Linked DNA regions of Homo sapiens. The protein of the gene in region 5 interacts with the protein of the main gene of each other region in a pairwise test. Each region holds a gene or a part of one and is shown on either strand. Other genes may lie near its edges.

Region 1 (3,500 bases), on a different chromosome or scaffold from region 5:
TACTGTGAAAATGCATATCTGGTTAGTTGTCTGCTGCCCAGATCTTATCAATACCAGTAACTAACCAGTATTTAACATAAAATGATACAAATAAAGGCCTTTTTCTATTTCAGTGAGGGTACATTTTTCTTGATATATATGTACTTTAAGGATATTGGATCTGTTTATGGATCTGTTTTAGGAAACAGATTTGCAAGGGATAATTGTATATATAGTAGTATTTAGGTTTATTTCAAATTCATCTTAGGGATGCCTAGATGCATAATTTTTACCAGGACATATTGAAAATATTGCAAAGAGATAGCCAGTTATATTATCCCATTCATTAGAAATTACCAGTGTAACTAAACATAAATATTCCAGTTTAGAGTGCTTAAACGTAGCTATCTTTCTTAAGGCCAGGAGGGTAACTTTGTGGTATCTAAAGGGCTTAAATTTCAGAATGCAGAATAAATTGCCTTTTTAAAACCAAGCATTTTGTACAAGCTTTTATTTTCAGTTTTTTAACTACCAAATAGGTGTGATGTACTTTAGAAGTAAACAAAGATGTTCACCCATGATAATGGATGTTAAAGCTCCTGCAGTTGTTCTTTTCGTGTTTAAAGGGTATATTCTAATAGTGGAAGCATCAAACATGTCAGTGATTTCATCTCATTCAGAAATAAAGAGATTAATATTGGTCTTTATTTTTTGGCATTTTAAGTTTTATATAAATGGATGCAGATGGAGATTATCACCCACAAATATATTTAAATGGATTTTTCTTAATTTGAATTTCAAGTAATCTTTTTATTTCAAGTAATTAGTTACGCATTTAGTTACATTGCCAGTTTTTTTTTTTTATCAATTTCAGTAAGACAAAATATACTAAAATGTTTAAATAGCCTCATTCAATCTTACATTTTGACATTTCAGCAATCATTCTGGCTTACAGTAATTAGATCCCCTGTTACGACACATGCCCTTTGTTCTTAATAACTAGCAAAAAAAAAAAAAAAAAAAAACTTTCATCTTGTTAAAATACTTTGCCAAATGAAATAGACTAGTCAATACATCTGATGTCCATAATTATTGGTAACTCAGTTACCTTCTAACTAATAGGCTGGTTCAGGAGACTCTCCCAGTTTATAAATGGTTCTCTTGGGAGCCTTTGGAAGCTGTATTAAATCTTTCAGTCTTTTATTTCTAATTTTTTCTCTTAATCTAAATAGAGGCCAGTTATCTATTTTATCAGCTTTTATTCTTGAAGATTCTCAGATTATGTTTTAGTCCCTTTTAGCTTTAATAGTCCTTGAAAAATACATTACTGTATAATGTGGCAATTCTGTAACAGAGACTTATTACTTGAATGAATAATCCTAAAATTTTAATATTTTAGCTGAAGTTTGAGATTTGTGGAATGAACAAAAGAATTAGAAACTTTCATATGTTACTTTGTTTCAGTCATCTGCAAAGTATGAAGCTGTAATTCTGAAATACACATCCAAGTGAATGAGAATTAAAAATTTTCTAAATATTAATACTAACTGGGAAAAAAAAACTAGTGTGAAGTTTACAGTTAGAAGAAACAGACCCAAAGTTGCCAGAAGGTAATAAATAAATGTAGTTTTCACTGTAAGTAAGTTATTGACGTAAGATGCTTTATTTGTAATATATTTAGATTTTGAAAGTTATTGAGAGATGAATGTATAAAAGCTAAATTTTCTTTTCTGAAGCAGTGAAACAAAATTGGGGTAACAAGGAAGCTCTGTTGTGGCAAACATGTCTATGAGGAATATTAAAACTAAGCATACTCCCACAGGCTTTAAACTCAAACTATGAACATTTAAATTAAGTTGTTCCTTATTTTGCCTATACCCATTTTTATCTTTCATTGTCGTTTTTGCTTGACAGTATGGTGACAGAGTATTTTTATTTGGAAAGTCCTCAGCAAGATGAATTAGCCAAAAGCAATAATGGTTCAGATTAAACAATAAAGTGGAATTGATTCAATCCCAGGCTCAACTAAGAACAGTCGCTCTCTGGATGTTTCATTTTAGACGATAGATAAGTTGAGATGTTGTAATATTTATGGGGGGTTAAGCCTGTGTCAGTTATGGGATGAAGACTTGTAGTACCAGTACCATCAGTGGTCATACTTTTTTTTAACTTTTTACTAAACTAATACAGTTAGACATTTCCACTCTATCGTGATTATATTTTTATGATGGGAAAATAAAAACACTTCCATGTTTTTATAAATAGTCTCTGCAAAGATTTCAGATGTTATTGGTATCTCGGTTTGGCAGTATCTGAAAAATTGAGATTGTCTTTGAAATGTTTGTGCTACTTTTACTTAAGTAAACCCCCACTGTGCAAGACCCAGGCCGGCTTCAGCTAATACCAAGGTTTCTGTGTGCATAATAGTTTACAGAGAACTTAAGAGTAAGGACTGCGGATTAAAAACAAAACTTTTTTTAACTTTAAAATTTTTAGTTTTTGTTCAAAGTACCTGGTTTATAAAGTCAAATTCTTTTATTAGTTCCTTTCTCGTTTAAATTGACTGATGTTGCTGATGAAGCTTAAAGTCCCAGGCACGGTTGTGGCGATATACTGATAAAATTGGTGCCTAGTGGTGGGAGGAGCTCCAGTGTCAGGACTTTTATTAAAAGGCCCTTGTTTTCCCAAATGCCAATCTAGCCACATTTAGATTTCATTATTCAATAAAACAGATGAAAAATCATCCCATAAATGAATGTTGAGGTTACCAAAGTACATCACCTGCTGAGGAAGGATAAATCTTCCTGCTTTAAGGGAGCCCTGTCATCTCTCCTCTTAATGCACGTTTCCCTTGGTATTAGTGGAAGCTGTGTTCAAGATGGGAAGCCTTTCCTGCAGTTCTTAGAAACACCTGCTTTCTAAGGAGAGCCTTTTCTAGGATTAGCTTATGTGTGTTTTCTCTAGGCGATTTTTTATTTCAGTTACCAATTTAATTTTCAAGTTGACAGATGCTGTGTAAAGTCTCTCATAATGAGAGTAGTCCATTAAATTGTTGAAAGTTGCACTGCTTTTCATCTTTCAGGTACCTGAAATGAGTGACATCAGGTATTTGGAAGGAGTAAGATCATAAACTGTATTCATTTTCTTCCTTGTACAAAGTGATGACTTCTAATGCTTATATCTCAAGGTATTTTTTAAAAAAGCAACGGTCCCTAATAGAGTAAAATTTGGTTTTGGTCCAAGTTCCCAATAATGTATTTAATGTTTCTGTTGTTTACTGGTGCCTCCCGTTGCATCAGGTAGAGATTGCCTGCCTCTTTGTAGGGCAGCCTTGTGGCACCTTATGTCCAACTTGGAGGATAGTATATGGCTTCTTTGTGCCTCTACTATCTTTTCAAAAGCCATTTTATAAAAATCCTAGGTAGCCTATTTTAATATTTAAATATATATATTTGTGAAAGAACTTTTAGAACAGACCTTTTCTTTTTACTTTAAAATTCCTGTATTTCCATTTTTAAGAG
Region 2 (3,500 bases), on a different chromosome or scaffold from region 5:
TCCTGTGTTAGTCACCCTTAAACTTATCTCACCCCTCTTAAAGAATTTAAGTTCAACACGGGCAAGAAATATCTATGCTATCTTCATACTATCTACATAGAAGGCTTGCACATAGTGTACATTAATATACTGTTTTAATTTACTGTCACGATAATTTACAAACCAATGTGGAAAACTGATAAAATTATATGTGAAGTTTCAATATGAGTACTTAAGACTGTCAATTATGCATTCATTAAATAAACTTTATTAATTAACTAATCTACAAATAATACATGTGAGTCCTAAACAGCCTAACCACCATTTCAATTCTTAGACAAGCTGGTAGTGTTTTCTTAACATAAATTAGCTCTCTAGATAACACATTTCAAAAATATTATTAATAATGCAGTGTTAGCAGTCATTAACATCAATTTCAAAGAGTTCAACGCATCACAATGAATTTCAAAGTAAAAATAAACTTAACAGAAATCCTTTCAAAGATGCAGAATATTGGTACTATGTAAACAAAAACTAAATGTTACATAATTTAAGTCAGAAAAAGACTTACTCTGCAGCTAGCCAAGCAATGAACTTTCATTTTGGTTTAAAGTGCATGACCTATCACTTCACCTAAGTCACAAAAATTCATCTCTCAGGCAGTTTTTCTTAACAGCTTAAGATATTGGCCAGGTGCGGCGGCTCACACCTGCAAAGCCAGCACTTTAGGAGGCCATGGTGGGCTGATCACGTGAGGTCAGGAGTTTGAGACCAGTCTGGCCAACACGGTGAAACCCCACCTCTAATAAAAACACAAAAATTAGCCGGGTGTGGTGGCAGGCACCTGTAATCCCAGCTACGCAAGAGGCTGAGGCATAAGAATCACTTGAACCTGGAAGACCGAGGTTGCAGTGAGCCGAGATCACTCTACTGCACTCCAGCCTGGGGGATAGTGTGAGACTGTCTCAAATTAAAAAAAAAAACAAAAAGTATCTAGAGGTGGCAGTCAAATGCTCTCTAGTTATTTCAATTTGTAATTGATTCGACAGAAAGAACTATTTACTGAAAAAGAAAACCAGAACTTTAAAAGTGCCTGTTTATGTATTGCTGCAGTTCTAATTTGTGACCAAATATGCAAATATGTTCTATAATCTTAGTATATCTTTATTACCAGGCACAAATCAAAACTTTAGGAAATACCAAGTATATAAGACTTTGTCCACGTAAAAAATTAAGACTGCAAGTGTTCAGAAGACAATCTTCCAAACTAGAAAACTCTTTAAAACACAAAGCATGACATTATTTCCATGGCTACTTTCTTTTTTTGTTTGTTTTTGTTTTTTGAGACAGGCTCTCATGACTTTTCTAACCAAAACACTAGCCATCTTTAGCACTGGAAATGAATTTACAGGTTGAGCATCCCTAATCTGAAAATCCAAAATCTAAAACTTTTTGGGTACCAACATGACACTCAAAGGAAATGCTCATTGGAGCATTTTGGAATTCAGATTTTCAGATTAGGGATGCTCAACTGGTATGTATTCTGCAAATATTCTGAAACCCAAAAAAATCCCAAATCCAAAACACATCTGGTTCCAAGCATTTTGGATAAAGGATACTCAACCTGTATGCCTTTAAGTGCCAGCAAACAAAAAACACACATAAATGAGAATGTTTTTAATCAACATCCAAATATTACAATTTAAAAAAGCCACCTCTAGAACTGACCTAATAATTTCCCCTACCAAACACGCCAGCAAACCAAATTTAAGAAAATATGTTTCAATGGATCTTAAACTACTTCTATTATCAAAAAAATTTAAAACACCAACTGTTTTAATGCTAATATGTCCTACGGAAAAAAGCACATACATTTTTAAGTGATATACAATCTATAACTTCTAAGTATTTTGTATAATCTTTCTACTAATAGAATTACCAAAAAAATTTCCAATAAGAGTATTTAAGAAAAACTTAAAAATAAGATACTTTGTTCAAAACTGTGTATTTTAGCAATAGTTCCCTGACGCAGATAAGATTCCCCAGTCCCCTAGCATTATTACTATAACTATACTTGGTAGTACTACTATATTTAAACTTACTACATTTATGGTATATATTCGTATATATTCTACTTTAACTCAAATCCTTACCCTACTTAAAAAAAAAAAAACCCAAAAGGTTTTCAAAAATGTACTAAAAAAGTCACAAGTTAATTTCTGTTAAAATATTTTGCTTAGTTTTCGATAACTCCACTGAAATTTTAAAAATAAGAATCTTGAATTATTACATTACCAGAAGATTAAGGGTCAGCATTCAAGAGCACTGTTCAAGATCACCCTATATCACAAGAACTCTAATTACGCAGGCTCTAGCTGTTTACAACCTTAAAGACATTACCAAAAAATAATACATTGTATTAACTACCTTATTTTTTTAATCCAAAACCCCAGGCATTGTATATCAAATGGCCATCCTACAAACAAAAAATTCTTTCAATGACTCTAATATAACTGAATCTGACAAAAACATTCGGGAGACGATGAGAAATCAGTGGTTTGAATAAACTGCACACCTGGAAAAGGAATACACATATAGATATGTACATACGTATACATACGCATATGCATATATATACATATATGTGTATACGCATATACATACGTATGTATATACATGTATATATGTATACACGTATACGTGTGTATATACGTATGCGTATACGTGTATATACGTATTCATATACGTGCGTATATACGTATACGTGTGTATATGCGTATATGTATATGTGTGTATACGTATATGTATACGTGTGTATATATGTATATGTACACGTGTGTATATATGTATACGTACATATGTTAAGGGACAAGTAAGAGACATATTTAATGCTTTCAACTTTCTAAAGCTTTTAGGTCAAGAGTTTTTTTTAACATACAAATGTGAATTTTAAAAACTTGAAAGAAAATCCAATAATATACATAGGAATAAGAATTTTTGAAAACAAGTAGTAATAGCTAAATTTCTGCCAGAAAGGAAAACGTTATACAAAGTGCAGACTAAATTGGGGCCGGGGGGTTGGGGGTGGGGGGGCATGGCAGGACAAAAATCAAAGCTAAAAAGGGAATTCTGGGAGTTATTCAATTCCATTATCTGCCCTCAGGTAAGTAGCCTAAACCTGCCCAGTAAAGGAAAGCCAACTCTTAAGACTTTCAGGGAATAAGAATTCTGAAACCAACATAGCTCAACATTCCACAAAAAATAAAAATAAAAAACAAAAAAATACTGCTTCGAGGACTGTTAAAAGAAGGATGAAACTAAATAATTCAAGACTTCCTACAGCAGGACTCCAGCTCATTCACTTCATTCAGAACCCAATTCAAACAGAGGGTGCGAAGTTATATAATGTCAGGCTTTACATTACACACCCCACTGGTATGTTCAGGCTCACAAAGATGCAACCAAGAACTATATGCGGTTGCAAGCACATATTACAGAAGGTTTTATTTTAATGTTAAGGC
Region 3 (2,261 bases), on a different chromosome or scaffold from region 5:
CCCACCCCCCCACCACATGCCTGTGACCCACTGAGGCTTGCATACTCTGCATTGCAATTATGTGTTATTCTTGATTAAATTCATTTATTCTGGAGAGCCTGAGTTTCTCTTTAGGTTGACACCACTCACTCTTGTCAGTCCCTGGAGTACCCCAAGCATCCTCACGTGGTTAGCAGGGAAACCTTGGCATCTCAAGGATGCAGGTGCAGGAGAGCGAGTCTCCAGGCTGTCAGAGCTGAGCATGCAGAAGCCTGCCCTGGAGAGCGCCCCGAGGTTCCTGACCGCAGGTTGTCTCAGGCCCTCCTGAGACCCTGGTGAAGAGTGGGATGGGACCGCGGGGGGATTCCTTGGCACCCCAAGTAGTCTTGGCCTTCATGTGTGAACTCCTGTCCCTAAGGGGGCCCCCAGTGAGCTCCAGCCCTGGGACACAGCTGTGAACACCTGATCCTTGTTCCCAACACCCGTGCACTGCCCAAAAACTGCACTTGCCAGAGTAGCAGTCAATTACGGCACCTTGTGTTTATTGGAAATATTCCACCTACAGAACATTAAGATGCCAGCAACCGGCCCGGCGCGGTGGCTCACACCTATAATCCCAGCACTTTGGGAGGCCGAGGTGGGTGGATCACGAGGTCAGGAGATCGAGACCATCCTGGCTAACACGGTCAAACCCCATCTCTACTAAAAATACAAAGAATTAGCCAGGCGTGGTAGTGGGTGCCTGTAGTCCCAGCTACTAGGGAGGCTGAGGCTGGCCTGGAGGTTGCAGTGAGCCAAGGTCACGCCACTTCACTCCAGCCTGGGCAACAAGAGTGAAACTCCGTCTAAAACAAACAAAAAAAAAGACTTCACCCAACTAACTGTGCTTGTGTAGAAAGAGGTTGCATCCCTGTTCCAGTCATGGCCATGAGGAACAGCTATGAGAAGGGCCCTAAGGCACAGCATGGTTTGCAGTAAGAAGGGCAGAGCCAGGGAGAGAGAAGTAAACATCATCTTCTGGGCTTTGGTTTCAAAAATCACAAGGTGTGGGCCTGAGCCTGCTGCCTGCCCAGGTCTGGGCGCCTCCACTCAGCCACTGTCCTCCCAGTGCCTCTAAATCTGGAAGGCTGCATCTGAACCTGCCCTTCCAGACAACACCCCTCCCCTGGGAAACCAATGGGGATGAGTAGTGGCCCTCCACTGGGGACTGTGGGTTTCGAGGTGGGGGCAGAGGATGAGTTGGCAGCAGTGGCATATCATAGCTCTCTTCATGTCAGCAGGGAGAGGGAGGTGCCACTGCCTCCCCTGAGATGAGAAAGCAGGCGAGAATCACCAGGGGAAGAACCCTGGGGCAGCTGGCTTGTCCCAGCCATGCCTGAGTGCACCAAATATGGAGGCTGCGTCCTCACTCGGAGAGCCAGGCAGCCTGAGCACCAAGATCCGTCAGAAGCAGCAGGCAGCTGGGGTGAGGGGTGGTGCCTCTGACTCATGAAATCCCGGATTAGTCAGCAACCATCACAGAGGCCGCCGGCATTGATCCCACTGGTTCTTGGGGAAGCACAGAAAACTCAGCAGCCTAAACCGACCATGGAAGAGGCTGAGAGGCAGAGGCCTTGGGGATAGATGGGGAGAAGGCAGGAGTACCGGCCGCAGGCTCAGGTGTCCAGGCCAAGCTTCTCAGAGCCACCTGGATCATGGACATCAGGCTCTTTCTGTGGCCTTGCTGGGCATCCAGGGTGTGTGGGCTGGGATGCCCCAGCCTTGCCCCCATTACTGGTTCGTCTGCTAAGGAAGAGGGGGCAGCCCTCGAGTGGGTGGAATTGTCCCCCTCATTCTGGTTCTGCATCTGTAGGCTGCAGAAGCACATCCTGTGTAGCTTATGCAGCTTCTAGTGCTCGGTGGGGTGTGGTGGATCCACAAGGCGGGCTCCCAAAGGGACATGCCCTCCTGTTCTCCCCAGATGACACCACACCTCCCTTGGGCCCCAACCCGAAGCCTCCTCTCAGCCCCATTCTCCCAGGTCCCAAGTCCCTCTGCCTCTTGACTAGACCCCACAGCCAGGAATGGAGCCACAGAGCCCCCAGCAGGCTGTCGCCACTTGTGTCCAGAGGCGACAGGAGAGGCCCTGCCCTCGTGGAGTCTACCAGCATGTTTCATTCTGTGTTCTGCAGGCTGGAAGCATGGGGCAGGCTGCTTTCCCACCCAGAGCTCAGGCTGGGCTGTAGCCCCCAGCTCCAGGACGCCGGGGCTGGCAGGTCTGGGGGGAGTCGGGACTTCCAGGA
Region 4 (3,500 bases), on a different chromosome or scaffold from region 5:
TCTTTTGTAAAAATGCTTTTTTTTTTTTTTTTTTGGAGCTTTACTATTACTATGGCCACTTGCTCTTCCCCAAAAGACTTTCATAATAACTTGGACAAATGTCTGCTTCAGAAAACAAAACAAATTTAAAACACTGGGTCCCTGATAGGAATGGCATTAAATTATAAATTATGTTGGGGTAAACTGAGGTATTTATATTATTTAGTCTTTATCTGAAGATTTTATCCTTTTTTTCTTATAGATTCTGAACATTTCTTATTAAAGTGATTTCTAACTATTTTATATCTACATTTTTAAAAATTTAGATTTAGTTTAGATTTTTAGATTTAGTTTAAATTTTTAGAGTAAAAATCTCTTCAACGCTTTCTGTTTTTGCTTTATGAAGCATCTTATAATTAGAAGATAATTTTCTTTCTTGTTTGACATCAAATTTCTTTCTTGTTTGGCATCAAAACATAACTATGTGGCCAGAGACACCTGAAGATAAAATCCTTAAAGTAGAAAACAAAAAACAACCAAACTCCATCATCACATGACAGGATACTTAACCCACATCTTTCAGCATTCTGAAATTAAAGGGAATGTTTTAAAAGCCTTCTAGGCTAGATTGGTTCAGTCTTATACGGCCACAAATGTTCTCCTGGAAAGAAAAAAATCATATTCTCCTCAAAAGCATTAGGCAGTACGGCACTGATTAATAGGAGCAATAGACAAGACTGAAAAGTCTCTCTGCTGGTTCTGCTGGCATATCTAAATTCATATTCATTTAGCAGGCATTTTATGCTTAGTAATGCCCTGTCTTGCACAAAGGAATAATTCATTCTGGACTGAAATGTGCTACTACTATGTTACAATGTCTCTGTTAGCAAAACTCACAGGTACAGGACATATCATAAACACTCACCAAAAATCTTGAGAGACTGTTGCTACTGCAACAGCAGAAAATAAGCCCTGGTTTACTGACATCCTCTCTGACATATGATGTTGGATTCAAATATTTCACTGAGATTGTGGTATTACAATTTAATACGGAATCTAAAATCCAATTTTGTAGCCCTGCTAGTGAACTTAATGTATATCTCTGGGATAATAGAGTTTAAATTCATTAACTTTCATTGCAAGATTTATAACAGCCCGAAATATAGTTTTATACCACTTCTTGGGAAGGAAATACAGAAAGAAACAATTTTCTCTTAAGTGTCTGCTCTCCAGCACAGGTTTTGATGCGAACTATCAACCCAGAAAGTATTAGTTGAATTATTAATTATACTTATTTCTTTATAATGAAGAATACATACAGAGAAACTATATCAGCTCTGGAACTGAAAACAACTATGAAATTTCTGATTTAATATGTGAAAGTCATGGATATTTGCATGTTCACTTAAAAAAAGTGAAGTTTCACGAAACAGGATGATTAATAAAACAATAACGTTCACAGAAAAACAGCCGAAATCTATACTAGAATCACAGAATTTACAGCCTCAAAGTACTGAAAATATATTTTTATTTTCAGAGGCCTCTCAGTAATGACACGTACAGAACACAAAGCACCCACTTGCTAATTCCAGGATGATATTTTGTACTTGTTGTGTAAACATGTGGCACATGTGCTGTTTTCTTATCTCAAGCACTAGGAAGCCCCTGCTTAAGAATGCCACCTAAATATTTCACCTTGCAAAGGAATGCAAACACAGTATTTTTAGTTAACTTCATAAAATCTCTAAGATTTCTAGAAAGTGCTTTCACAGGCACATTTTAGAGACATAAGCATCTGAACTAAAACTGAAGTCTGAAAAGACTGATAGAGAACATTAAATCTCTATATAGGAGTGAAAATATTTTACATGAGAAAGACACAGTTCAATTTAGAATTTTTTAGAAAAACTATGCACAAGTTCCAGTTCAGGAAGGAGGCTAATTGGCTGATCACAAATTTGCTGATATATTCAAACATGATATTGCTTAGAGGTCTCTCAGGCTTTTTCTAACATATGGGGCCTTGATCAAAAAACACTCAAGGTACTTTGCAGAAGCTTCCATAATTACAACCTAAGAGAAGATAAGAGAAAGAAAAATACAACTCCCTCAATGTAGCTATCTTGATTTTCTTTTTCCTAAGGTTAACTCTCTTGTGATGCTGGTTGAAAATACAAATCAGATTCTTCAGAGGATTCAAATCTCAGCACGGAGAGAATATCAGATAAAATAAAACAATAAAATCTTGTTTCTAGCAGCATTAATACATTTTTTATAAGACGAGCTACCATTCTTTGTTAGGACTACGGTCTATTCAGGCCGGTATAGACATCAATAGGAGGCCTCCAGGGATCATGGAACAAAGTAACATTATCCTCCACGATGTAGTCAGAGAGGTGGGGCATATTTCAGTTTCTTTTAGCAGTCATCGAATAGGACTCTAAATATCAAAGAATCCCTTGGGGACTTCTTGCACATATGATTTCTTTAGAAAATTATCTAGTTTGTAAAAATGTGCTTCTTTTCATTTGTCCTAAACTTAACTGATTAAAAGTTTTAAAGAGATTACCATTGTTCTAACTTTTTGGAATTGCTGTTCACATCATTCAAATAGCGAGTGGTTCTAAGCATTTTTAGATAGATTCCCTATGGCTAAACATCAGCATTTTACATCAGTATTAAACACCAGTATTTTATTAAGATTTCAAGTGACCATCACTTCATCCCTCTGGGTTTTTGTTGCCCCCTTATAGATTTCATTATTTTTCTTCTGCTATTTGGAGACTATAGTCGAACCGCATCTGGGATTTCAGATATTGTGGAAATATAAAGGTTGAGTGAGACTTTCTAAAGTTTTTTCTATTGATTGTATTTGCTTTGTTTATGGTATCAAGCATACCACTGGCCTTACTGACTGTATCTGTACACTGACCTGCTGTTCTTAAGGGATAGAGGACAAAGGTAAAGATCCATTTTCCTAGGGCAGCATGTATGTGTCTGTGTCTGTGTCTGTGTGTGTGTGTGTGTGTGTGTGTGTGTGTGTGTGCAGAGGTGCTGGGCTGAAAGCTCAGAATTCTTTATTTAACATACATAATTTCAATCCTTTGAGCTTTCATCCAGAGCACTAATGGAGAAGTTAAATAAGAACAGTCTTTGGTAGCTCTGATCCTCAGAAACCCTGTTTTTATCTAATTCTACCCATATAATGAAAGAATCTGAGATCTGGAAGAGAACTCAGAGATCTGCTATCAATAACTTTTCCCTCTAATATTTCTAACATGGAACTTTCAGCCTATTCATGGCATGCCTCAATACAATAGGACAGGTATGTATTTAGACAGTTTGAAAGTCTATCTTTTTAGAAGACTAAAATGTGTATCTCTCACTTCAGTCTATTGAATCTAGTGCTTAATTCTCAATGAATATAGAACAAACTTAGCTCATCAAAAGAACTTTTGACATACTTAACAATAATTGACACAAACCTCTCAAAAACTCAACTTCAGCGCTCTAGGCTAAAC
Region 5 (3,500 bases):
GCCGTGTACCCATCACACTGCATTCGAGGAGCATTGCACACAGCAATCCTCATGTTCTAAGTGCTTCCTACCTCCCTTGTGGGAAATCTGAGAGAGGGGTTTGGGTACAGAACTACTCTCCCAGCTCAGCCAGAAGCCAAACTTCCATTCACCGTCTCCCGCAGATTTACAGTTTTCTCTATCCAAGGAGAAGACACCACTGAAAAACCATGGCAAAACCACGTGGTAACCTTCAGTTTACAGAACTTGAAGCAGAGGCTATTTCAGAAAGAAAGGATAATAAAGACGTTTATTTGCATTTGTCAATCAACTTAACATACAGCTGAGAAAGAAAGACTAAAAACCCTCTAATAAAGATTGTTAACTGACAGAAGCATTTTGTTTTTGTTTATTTTTTGAGACAGGGTCTCGCTCTGCCACCCAGGCTGGAGAGCAGTGGCGCGATCTCCACTCACTGCAACTGCCACTTTCTGGACTCAAGCAATCCTCCTGCCTCAGCCTCTCAAGTAGCTGGAACTAGATACACACAGCACTGCACCCGGCTAACGACAGAAGCATTCTTATGATACGATCTCCTCTCGGCTCACTTCATCTTAGTCCTGGAGGTCTGACTGTCTAGTTTCTTCTTCTTCAGAATTAATGTTTCCTGAAAAGAAAAGAGAAACATGAGTATATCTCATATTTACTTTGTTCTATTTTTAAAGCCTTTATTCACTAACAGATCTTTTGCCGAAAAAAATTATTGTAACTATTAAGCATTCATCAGTCAAAAATTGAATGTTAAATTTTATCTCATATGCACTTCAACAGTTTTTTCTTTTGGTACCCGACATAAAATAAGCAAAATACGTACTCAAAGTAAATGCTAAGACAAGACTATCCATGTAACATCAGTAATTCTCTTATGCCTGCACACCTGTCCAAAACAGCCAGCTTTGTGGCTAAAACATGTAATTGCTTGGCTATTAATTTAAAAGAAAAGCAGGCCGGGCGCAGTGGCTCATGCCTGTAATCCCAGCACTTTGGGAGGCCAAGGCAGGCGGATCACTTGAGGTCAGGAGTTCGAGACCAGCCCGGCCAACATGGTGAAACCCCGTCTCAACTAAAAATACAAAAATTAGCTGGGCATGGTGGTACATGCCTGTCAACCCAGTTACTTGGGAGGCTGAGGCAAGAGAATCGCTTGAACCCCGTGGCAGAGGTTTCAGTGAGCCGAGGTCACGCCATTGCACTTCAGCCTGAGCAACAGAGCAAGATTCCATCTTAAAAAAAAAAAAAAAAAAAGCAGAAATTTGCCACATTCTTATAAGACGCTATATTTAAATGTTTTGTGAAAGGTAGAGCTATTTTTTATTATTAATTAAACTCTATAACTTTCACTGTTGGGTATATTAAAGAAGAAATTAGCAGGGTAAATCTCCAATGTAATGTGGGATTCATGATGAATACATGCTGAACTTGCATTATTTTGATAAATGTTCTGCCGACTAAGCCTATTTTGTATTACTCCCTTTTCACTTAGGGCCCTCCTGACACTGTGGCCTGGGTGACCCTTTGCTGGGGGCTGTTCTGTGCCCTGCAGGGTATTCAGCACCGTCCCCGGCCTCCACCCAGGAAGATGCCAGCAGCACCTCCCTCACCAGCCTCCCAAGTCTCCAGACATTGCCAAATGTCCCCTGGAGCCCCAAAACCACTGAGTTAAGGGGGTGTTCCCTCTGTCCAAGGCTGGTGCATGAACCCACAGTCTCAGACGCCCGCTGGTACTGGGCATCGTCCACTCGGCCCCATCTCTCCCAGTCCGGTTTTCAGGATTCCTCCTGCTCCATCCCCTCCGTTATCTCCCCCACCAAGTTTCTGGGGCCTCCTGCCTTGCCTGGCTCCAGGGCACCCATCCTCATTGCCCCAGAGAAGCTCAGAGAGCAAGCCTGATACAGGCAATCCCCACAGCTCCCAGAGGTCCCGCCTACTGGGCTCAGGATCAAGTTCAAAGGCCATCTGGTTCCAAGGGAAAGGGGCCACCTCCCCACCCCCACACTCTTCTGCTGTCAGACTCTGCTCTCTGCCTGGAATTTCCTTCCTGGTTTCACCCATTCCTTGCCACCTCCCTCCCAGCTAACCCGGAGTTTCCTGGTCCTGCCCCAGGTGAGTCATCACCTCTCCTGGGTACATGGTAACACGTCCCTGTCACTGCAGGGAACTCACTGATTCCTTTATTCCAGCTTCCCATTAGGTGCTAGAGGGCGAGAGCCCAGCCCCTCACTCCCACACTGCCTATCAAACCCAGTGTCTCCCCCTCCAGCTGTGCTCCACAGTGACTAAGGACTGACATCTGTGGGCACAGCTAGATGCTGCTGTAACACTGTGCATACTCTAGCCACTCAGTCCTAACAGAATCCTGTGGACTCCCTACCTACCAGGGCTCACTCTATCCACCCTCCCTGTGCAAGTCAGAGAAGCAGAGACGATGCTCACTTGTAAAGCCAGGTTTCCACCTGACCCCACGTCCCACCTCAGCACTGCGTCACTGGGTGCATTGCTACAGCGCTCAGGGGAATTACCGATCACGAAAGTCTATGCCAGCGCTCAGGGGAATTACCGATCACGAAAGTCTATGTGTGCTTCAAGCATCTAAGAGAAAACTGCTTTATGTGATTTCATTATTTCAGGTATTATTTTCAAAGGAATGGGAAGTATATTCTTAATTTACAACAGAGACAAACTAAGTGGAATGGGACTGCAGACCCCGTGCCTGAGGCCGCCGTGCCCAGGCTGTTCCCAGATGGCCCTTTCCCTCACAAGCACGACACCCTCTTTCAGTCAGATGTGAAAAGTGCGTTAAGGGAAGCGAGTCCTCTCTCCAGACTTTCTGCAAGTGCCCACAAGCACTTGGGGAAAGATTTTTAAAGATTCCAGGAGCCTGAGGCTTCAGTCAGTCAGAACTGAGGTCAAATCCCTGCCCTATGAGCTGGCAGAGGCAGAAGTTTCTAGATTAATCTTACATCCAAACCCATTGAAAAAGAGCTAGTTCCCGACACCACTAGTCTGAAACCATACTCCTGTTAGTCAGCCCTGCTAAAAATCATGCAAATCCCAGCACTTTGGGAGGCCGAGGCGGGCCTCCTGTGTGAGGTCAGGAGTTTGAGACCAGTCTGTCCAACACGGTGAAACCCACCTCTACTAAAAATACAAAAAAATTAGCCGGGCATGGTGGCATGCACCTGTAATCCCAGCTACTTGGGATGCTGAGGCAGGGGAATTGCTTGAACCAGTGAGGTGGAGGTTGCAGTGAGCCAAGATCGCACCACTGTACTCCAGCCTGGGTGACATAGCAAGACTCCATCTCAAAAAAAAAAAAAAAATCATGCAACAGAAGAAAGCCAGGCTCTGCATGTCTGACAGGGCTCTCCAGCCTGGGGTCGGTCCTCCTGTGACAACGCGCATGGGCACCGCTGCACACCCAGGCCTCTCCCACTGCAGCCAGGCTTGCAGGAGGGCCTGCC
Region 6 (3,500 bases), on a different chromosome or scaffold from region 5:
GGGAAAAAAATGTTCTCTTGGGAAATGTCATAGTCAAAGGTATATAACAAAGTAAAGTAGCAATGAAAACCTAGTGCATTTTTAAAATAGAGATGACGAGAGGATAAGATGAAATTAGAATACAATAAAAAATAAACAGGGAAGGCAAAAGACATGGTAATTTGGCATCTAATTTACATTAATTGAAATAAATTGCTGAAGCCATTTACTTCATTATCCTGATTTTTACTGCAATGAAAATTCAATACCAGAGGGTTCAGTGGTCTTTAAGTAATGTTTAAAAAGCAAGAAAAAAAACAGAATTTTGGAGGAGGTTTGCTTTTCTTCCTTCCTTCCTTCTTTCGTTCATTCATCCTTAATTTATGAACCATTTACTAAGTGCTTATTCTGTCCCAGGCACGATTCTGGACACTAGGGATGTAATAACATATAGAGCATAGTTTATTTTCTTGAGAAAGTCTTGGCCTACTGATGGAGACTGAGGCCAATATAGCGGTGTAATTCTCTTTAAACCATTAGGAAAAGAGAAGCGAGGGATCAATTAAGTAACTACGCTCTTTTCAGTGCTTTACTTTTTACAAAGTACTTTCACAGTGCCTGCTACATATCAGGTGCTCAATATAGATCTGTTGAATGAATGAAACAGTAAGGGATTAAAAGGATGGTTTCTGAAGGAAGAGGTTCAATTCTGGCTCCACCACATGCTAGCTATATGACCATGGGAAAAATCCATATCTCCCTATGCCTCAATTTTCAGTAAAATGGAGGTAAGTAATAATAGTGGGTACCTCATATGGTTTAGAGGATTAAATATAAACCATTTACTACAGAATAAACATTTAATGTTAGCTATTCAAAATACCAAAATAGGAATGGTAATAAAGTAACATCTACTCTGTCTCATTTAATCCTCACACTCAATCTTCAGAAGGTAGACTGAAGTTCTGCTTCCAGACCTTCAAAGGTCCAAATGTCTAATTTGTATGTTATGTTAAGCAATTACACTGTGAAAAAAATATGAAAACAGTATCCCATATGTACACTTAAAATACTATGATCATAACCTATGAAAGAGACTGAGTAGATAATTTTCCTTTGGTTTAGGGACATAAGATGGGGCTATGCAAAAGAGAAAATGAGCAAGTGAACAAACAGGCCAGTCAAGCAGAGTGAATGTCAAAGTCTAATGCCAATGGCTTTAGCCTCAAATGAAGTCACACCACATCTAACAGGACCAACAGGAATATCAACCATGGTGCCTGTGATAACTATTTTAAATCAGAAGCTGCCATTTTAGGGATAATAACAGCATAGGCCTTTCATTAATCAAAAGTCTATACCCTAAGCATAAAACTAAAACATGTTTACTTTTCCCAAGTATGTTAGGCAACACTTACAAATCAATTTGTTCTGAGGTTTACTTACACAGCACTGAACCACTGTTGAAAATTAAGCTCTTACAAAATCAACTCTGGCAATAACTTTGTACTAAAGGAAAAAAAATTATCTCAGCATTTTTCTTAACTACTAACTAGCCTAGTTAGTATGCAAAGTTAGCAACCTTGAAAAGTACTGTTAGCTTTGATTCTGAGCAGGCCAGAGAAATCTGCCTCAATTAAGTCAAATCGTGGTTTTGAACAAAATAATCTCAAAGGTATCTTCGAGCCCTGAAAAACACAAATCAGACAGCTGCAATTTTCTTCAGCTCTCTCCTAAGGTAAACATTTTTTGAAGAAACAAAAGAGAGGGTAGGAGGCAGGAAGGGTGCTCCAAAGTCCTCTTACAGCTTCATAGTAAGTCAATTGAATATAAGTCAACACATTTTAATGATCTAGTATATAAAGCATACCATGATGAATAAGAGGGTACTTGCTCATAAGAAGCTTAGCTTTTCACCTAGTATGGCAGGAGTCTCCCCAGGCCAAATTCTGCCCACTCCTCAGCCTGTTTCTGTAACATTTTATTGGAATACAGCCACACTCTTTCATTTATGTATTGTCATGGCCACCTTCACAACATACACAACAGTAGAGCTGAGTGATTGCAACAAAGACGATCTGGCTTACAAAACCTAAAATATTTACTATCTGGCCCTTTACAGAAAAAGTCTGCTGGCCACTGAAACTGAAAAAGAGAATAAAGACATCTTTCCACTAACTCTTCAAAGTCAAAGAATGTTAGCACCAGAAATAATTTTAAAGATCATTACAACTTTCCCGTTTTACAAGCAATGGGAGAGTTTCCCATTTTACAAGCATGGAAGATAGTAAAAACCTTCTAAACAAGAGGAAAATGTCAATAACAGATTACATACTATGTGCCAGGCACTATTCTAAGGGCTGCACGTACATTATCTCACTTAATTCCCTCCACAAGCCTGTGAGGCACACACTTCAGTACATTTTGTAGATGAAGAGACTGAGGCACAGAGAGGTTAAGCGATTTACCCAAGTTTGCACAGTTAACACATGGTGATGCTGGAATTCAAATCCACAGTTTGATTTCAGAGTCTGTGATCTTATCTCCCTGCATAGGGCATGCACTAAATGAAGGTACAAACGACGTAGCTATGTATGGGAAAACAAAGGCACAATTACTTTTCACTGAGGGGATCAGTAAAGGCTTCATGGAGGAAGAAGTGCTGGTCCCTTCTATTACCTTTTGACCTAATCTCTCCAGATGCCTGGAAAGGATGACAAATAGCACATAGCCACAAAACTTGAACAGAGTAAATTCACATTGTTACATGATACTGTTAAGTTAGAAATACATTCATTTTGCTAGTTTAGAAAAAAAATTTTTTTTTTTTTTTTGAGACAGAGTCTTGCTCTGTTGCCCAGGCTAGAGTGCAGTGGTCCAGTCTCGGCTCACTGCAACCTCCACCTCCCGGGTTCAGGTGATTCCCCTGCCTCAGCCTCCTGAGTAGCTGGGATTACAGGCATGCACCACCACAACTGGCTAATTTTTGTATTTTTGGTAGAGATGGGGTTTCGCCATGTTGGCCAGGCTGGTCTTCAACTCCTGGCCTCCGCCTGCCTTCGGCCTCCTAAAGTGCTGGGATTACAAGTGTGAGCCCAGCCAATTTTATTTCTTCTAATCGCCACCATTGATATAGTGACAGATACCACAGGTGGCTTGAAGAAGTATAAAACATTATCCCTGTGGTCAATGAGTTTACACTCTAGTCTAGAAGTATTAAATAAAACTACTTGGTACAGAAAAGGTTGATACTAGAGTCTTTTTTTAAAAGAAGTTTTGTACAAATGCTAAAATGTGGAAATGGGAAAATCATTGGTCAATATATATACATATTTTCCAATCATTTCATAGCAAAATCCCCAATGCCTGCTGTAATGGTTGGTTGTTGGGTTCTGACCAACAGAATCTATTCCCCCTCACTTTTGGTAATTGTACTCCAATTTTCCTCTTGATGAACCTGTCATGTTTTTCAGCGGGGGCTCCATCGCTGGTTTCAAGAGTGGAAGATGAAGCTATACTGT
Region 7 (3,455 bases), on a different chromosome or scaffold from region 5:
AAGGCAGGCTTGATTCCCAATTCCCCACCCAAAGGGCTCTTGCCTAAATCCCCCTTGTTGCCAGCCCCACACCGCCAGATCCTTCTGTCGTAGCCACTCAGCTACATCTGAACACGTGCCACTCCCTCCTTCCAGGGACCTCCTCTCCCTGGTGCCTATGACCCCACACTCCCATGATATTTTATTTCTACCCAAATCAGAGAAGGGTTTAACTAGTTTGGCAAAAGACAGGAAAAACCCAAGAGGCTCCTGTTCACACTGAGAGATAGGAGGAAACTGATACCTATCCCAATCATGGTGGTCTGTGGCCACACTTGGCTCCTTTAATGGGGCTAAAGGAGCTTTAACTCCGTTAAAGGAGGCAAGTGTTGCCACAAACCACCACCATCACGTGACCGAGGACCTTCTCCCACTTTTTCATTTACTGAAAACCCCTGAGCACCCAGCTGGGACAGTACTCGCCGACGCCCTGGACCACAAGGGCTTTCTAGAGGATAAAGCCTGAACCAGCCAAGCACCCCTGCACTCCACTGGTCCTCACCACACTGGCCGTGTCTGTGGTTTTCTTGGGGATGCTGATCAGGTCGCACTTCTTGTTTGCAGTGGGCTTGCTATCCAGAATGTTCTTCTTGACCACCTTGAGATCCCTGTTTTTGCCTGGAATGTACCCGTGCTTCAAGGAGATGAGGATTGGGTCTGCATTCTTGCCTTCGAACCACTCTTCTGCCTCCAGCGCGGCCTCTGGCCCCGCTGTGTCAGGATACAGGTCATCTTGGAAAAGGTCAGACTACAAGAGACATTTGGCACCCGTGGGTAAGGAAGAAGAAAGGCCTGGGATTTTTGAATTTTATTTTTACATTTGTTTAAAATATGGATTGTCTAGAAAACTCAGCACTCACCTTCCTGGGAACAGTCATAATAATAGGTTCACACTTTCTCTCATGAAGTTTGAAGAATCTTCAGAGGGGAAATAAAGGCAAAGTTGCATTAAGTGAAATATGAGGCTGACTAACAGGATGAATAATTAGTTTTCTACAATGCTGTCTGAAATGTCAAGTGCTTCTTTACCCATCCCCACATCTGATCCACCCCGGGAATAGGCAGAATTTAGTGTTCCCGGTTGACAGATGAGAGAACGGAAGCTGAGAGTCACTATGCTAGGAACTGGCAGACTGGAGACAAGAACCATGAGTAGAGGTCTACGTATGATGATGACAAATGCCAATTATCTGGGGGACAGACCAACTGTGGTGGAAATAATAGCAACACTGAAACTGACTCACTTATGAAAAAATTACCATGTCAACCTACAGGAGAGAACACACATCTGTTAGATTGTATCTACAACGCGGGTACAAGGTCTTCTGCCAGCTTGAGGTGGTTGAACATATAAGTATAAATATGACTTTTAGAAAGCAAAAGAAAACAATCCTAGGATTATGATTTTCTCATCCTAGCAAACCACATCGTACATGACACTCAAGAAAAATGTGAAACTATCCAAAATGTGGAAAGAGAATGTAAAGCCACTTGCACTGTAATACTGGAAGAAGGGAGCAAAGAGCTCTGTAATGGGGAAGAAAGGTATAACATTTTTATTTGTATCCTACAAGAGAACTAAACAGACCAGAAATGACTTCTCTTATGATGACCCTGATAAGGTCAAGCCAATTTTCTTTTTCAGTCAAGACGGGAAACAACAAAAAAAGTCTCTAAAGCTCCTGGCAAGAGAGGTAGCCTTAGTGAGCATCCTGGCCAGATCACCAGATCAAACGGCTGGTGTGCAAGGGGGGAGTTGAATGTGGGCGTCAATGCTGCTGGGGAAATGTTTTCTGAATTCCAAGAGTTTAAGTCAGAGAAGACACAGCCACATCAAATATGCAAAACCATTTCTCCTGGAAACCTGCAGCCTTTGGCATCTGAAACTGGGCAGGAGTCCATTGAAGACAACCTGGCAGATACACTGCTCTAACGCATCAGGGGAACAAAAGCTGAGTAGAGCTCAGGGTGGTAAAGGTTTATAAAATCATCATCCTCTTTAAAAGGAAGGTTGTGTCAAATGTGCCTCTTTACTATTTCAACCAAAAACTAAAAGAGTCCCAGATAAACCAAAAACCTTTTTTTTTTTTTTTTTTTTTTTTTTGGGACTGGGTCTTGCTCCATCGCCCAGGCTGGAGTGCAGTGGCACAAGCTCATTGAGGTCTTGACCTCCTGGGCTCAAGCCAAATCCTCAGCCTCTGGAATAACTGGGACCACAGGTACGTACTACCACACCTGGCTAATTTTTTTAATGTTTTGTAGAGACAGGGTCTCACTAGATTGTCCATACTGCTCTTGAACTCCCAGGCTCAAGTGATCCTCCCACCTTGGCCTCCCAAAGTGTTGGGATTACAGGGTGAACCACCACTCCTGGCCCAAAAACATTTTTAAAGACTGATTTAATGAAAATTCTGTGGTTAGTATAGCCAATAAAAAGACTGACTTGGCTTTGACTTCCAGCTCTACTACCAAAACCCACGAGAGTGTGACAACCTCACCAAGCCTTAAGTTCTTCATCCATAAAATGGGGATAAAAGTTACACCTACCACATATGATTGTTATGAAAAGAAAGAGGTAGCAAGTAGCATATTTAGCACAGTCCTGGCATACAATAAATGCTCAAGAAACACTTCATAAATCGGAGACATTCTGAACAACTGTGTTTATAGTCTGTCGAACTTTTAGATGACAACAAATGTGTTTCAAAATATTGGATGTAATCATAAATTTGAATTCAGTCTATTTTGAACCATATTTTGATTAGTTTGGTTTAAACCACAATTTTCAATTATCTTTAACAGCTTTCCTTCATTATTCCAACTAAAAAAAAAAAATCACATAGAGAGTTTTGGTTTGTTTGTTTTTGTTTGTTTGAGACGGAGTCTCGCTGTGTTGCCCAGGCTGGAGTGCAGTGGCACCATCTCGGCTCACTCCGCCTCCTGGGTTCAAGTGATTCTCCTGACTCTGCCTCCCAATTAGCTGGGATTACAGGCACCCACGACCACACATAGCAAATTTTTTATTTTTAGTAGAGATTAATATAAAAAAGGGGCTTATAAAAATTCTCTTCCTTTTATTTGGAAGACGTAAGTATCAATTCTTTAATTGTGAGACCAGAACAGCAAGCGTTTTAAAAGTCCACATAAACACAGTGTTACACAAATGTTTGGTACGACCTTATATGTGATGATGTAGTGCTAATTATTCTGTTGTTTGAAATGGCCAGTGGTCACTGAGTCTCAGAGGATATATTTGTTGACTAGCATGAGAAAAAAGCCTGTCCCTTAGGAAGCCTGCTAGCATTTAGAATATGAATTTTCTAAAAATCAGAAGTAGTACAGAGAGGTAGAAATTATATCATAGCTGAACTTCCTAAATCAAGCTAACCTACCGCCCCATTATAGGACCTTTGGTT

Evidence for each region.
Region 1: the proteins of RSPH1 (region 5) and ZBTB44 interact in a two-hybrid assay, tested with the Homo sapiens proteins (one large-scale study listed by BioGRID and IntAct).
Region 2: the proteins of RSPH1 (region 5) and KDM6A interact in a two-hybrid assay, tested with the Homo sapiens proteins (one large-scale study listed by BioGRID and IntAct).
Region 3: the proteins of RSPH1 (region 5) and UAP1L1 interact in a two-hybrid assay, tested with the Homo sapiens proteins (one large-scale study listed by BioGRID and IntAct).
Region 4: the proteins of RSPH1 (region 5) and EDIL3 interact in a two-hybrid assay, tested with the Homo sapiens proteins (one large-scale study listed by BioGRID and IntAct).
Region 6: the proteins of RSPH1 (region 5) and CMAS interact in a two-hybrid assay, tested with the Homo sapiens proteins (one large-scale study listed by BioGRID and IntAct).
Region 7: the proteins of RSPH1 (region 5) and CORO1C interact in a two-hybrid assay, tested with the Homo sapiens proteins (one large-scale study listed by BioGRID and IntAct).

What each region holds. Positions count from the first base shown.
Region 1 is NC_000011.10:130,227,918-130,231,417, reverse strand, and holds part of ZBTB44 (zinc finger and BTB domain-containing protein 44), read left to right. Parts: 3' UTR 1-3,500. UniProt on the Homo sapiens protein: May be involved in transcriptional regulation.
Region 2 is NC_000023.11:44,876,188-44,879,687, reverse strand, and holds part of KDM6A (lysine-specific demethylase 6A), read right to left. Parts: intron 1-3,500. UniProt on the Homo sapiens protein: Histone demethylase that specifically demethylates 'Lys-27' of histone H3, thereby playing a central role in histone code. Demethylates trimethylated and dimethylated but not monomethylated H3 'Lys-27'.
Region 3 is NC_000009.12:137,082,778-137,085,038, reverse strand, and holds the end of UAP1L1 (UDP-N-acetylhexosamine pyrophosphorylase-like protein 1), read right to left. Parts: 3' UTR 501-2,261; downstream 1-500.
Region 4 is NC_000005.10:83,944,381-83,947,880, forward strand, and holds part of EDIL3 (EGF-like repeat and discoidin I-like domain-containing protein 3 isoform 1 precursor), read right to left. Parts: intron 1-3,500. UniProt on the Homo sapiens protein: Promotes adhesion of endothelial cells through interaction with the alpha-v/beta-3 integrin receptor. Inhibits formation of vascular-like structures. May be involved in regulation of vascular morphogenesis of remodeling in embryonic development.
Region 5 is NC_000021.9:42,472,225-42,475,724, forward strand, and holds the end of RSPH1 (radial spoke head 1 homolog), read right to left. Parts: intron 647-3,500; coding exon 594-646; 3' UTR 262-593; downstream 1-261.
Region 6 is NC_000012.12:22,049,218-22,052,717, reverse strand, and holds part of CMAS (N-acylneuraminate cytidylyltransferase), read right to left. Parts: intron 1-3,500. UniProt on the Homo sapiens protein: Catalyzes the activation of N-acetylneuraminic acid (NeuNAc) to cytidine 5'-monophosphate N-acetylneuraminic acid (CMP-NeuNAc), a substrate required for the addition of sialic acid.
Region 7 is NC_000012.12:108,648,064-108,651,518, forward strand, and holds part of CORO1C (coronin-1C), read right to left. Parts: intron 958-3,455; coding exon 900-957; intron 788-899; coding exon 542-787; intron 1-541. UniProt on the Homo sapiens protein: Plays a role in directed cell migration by regulating the activation and subcellular location of RAC1. Increases the presence of activated RAC1 at the leading edge of migrating cells.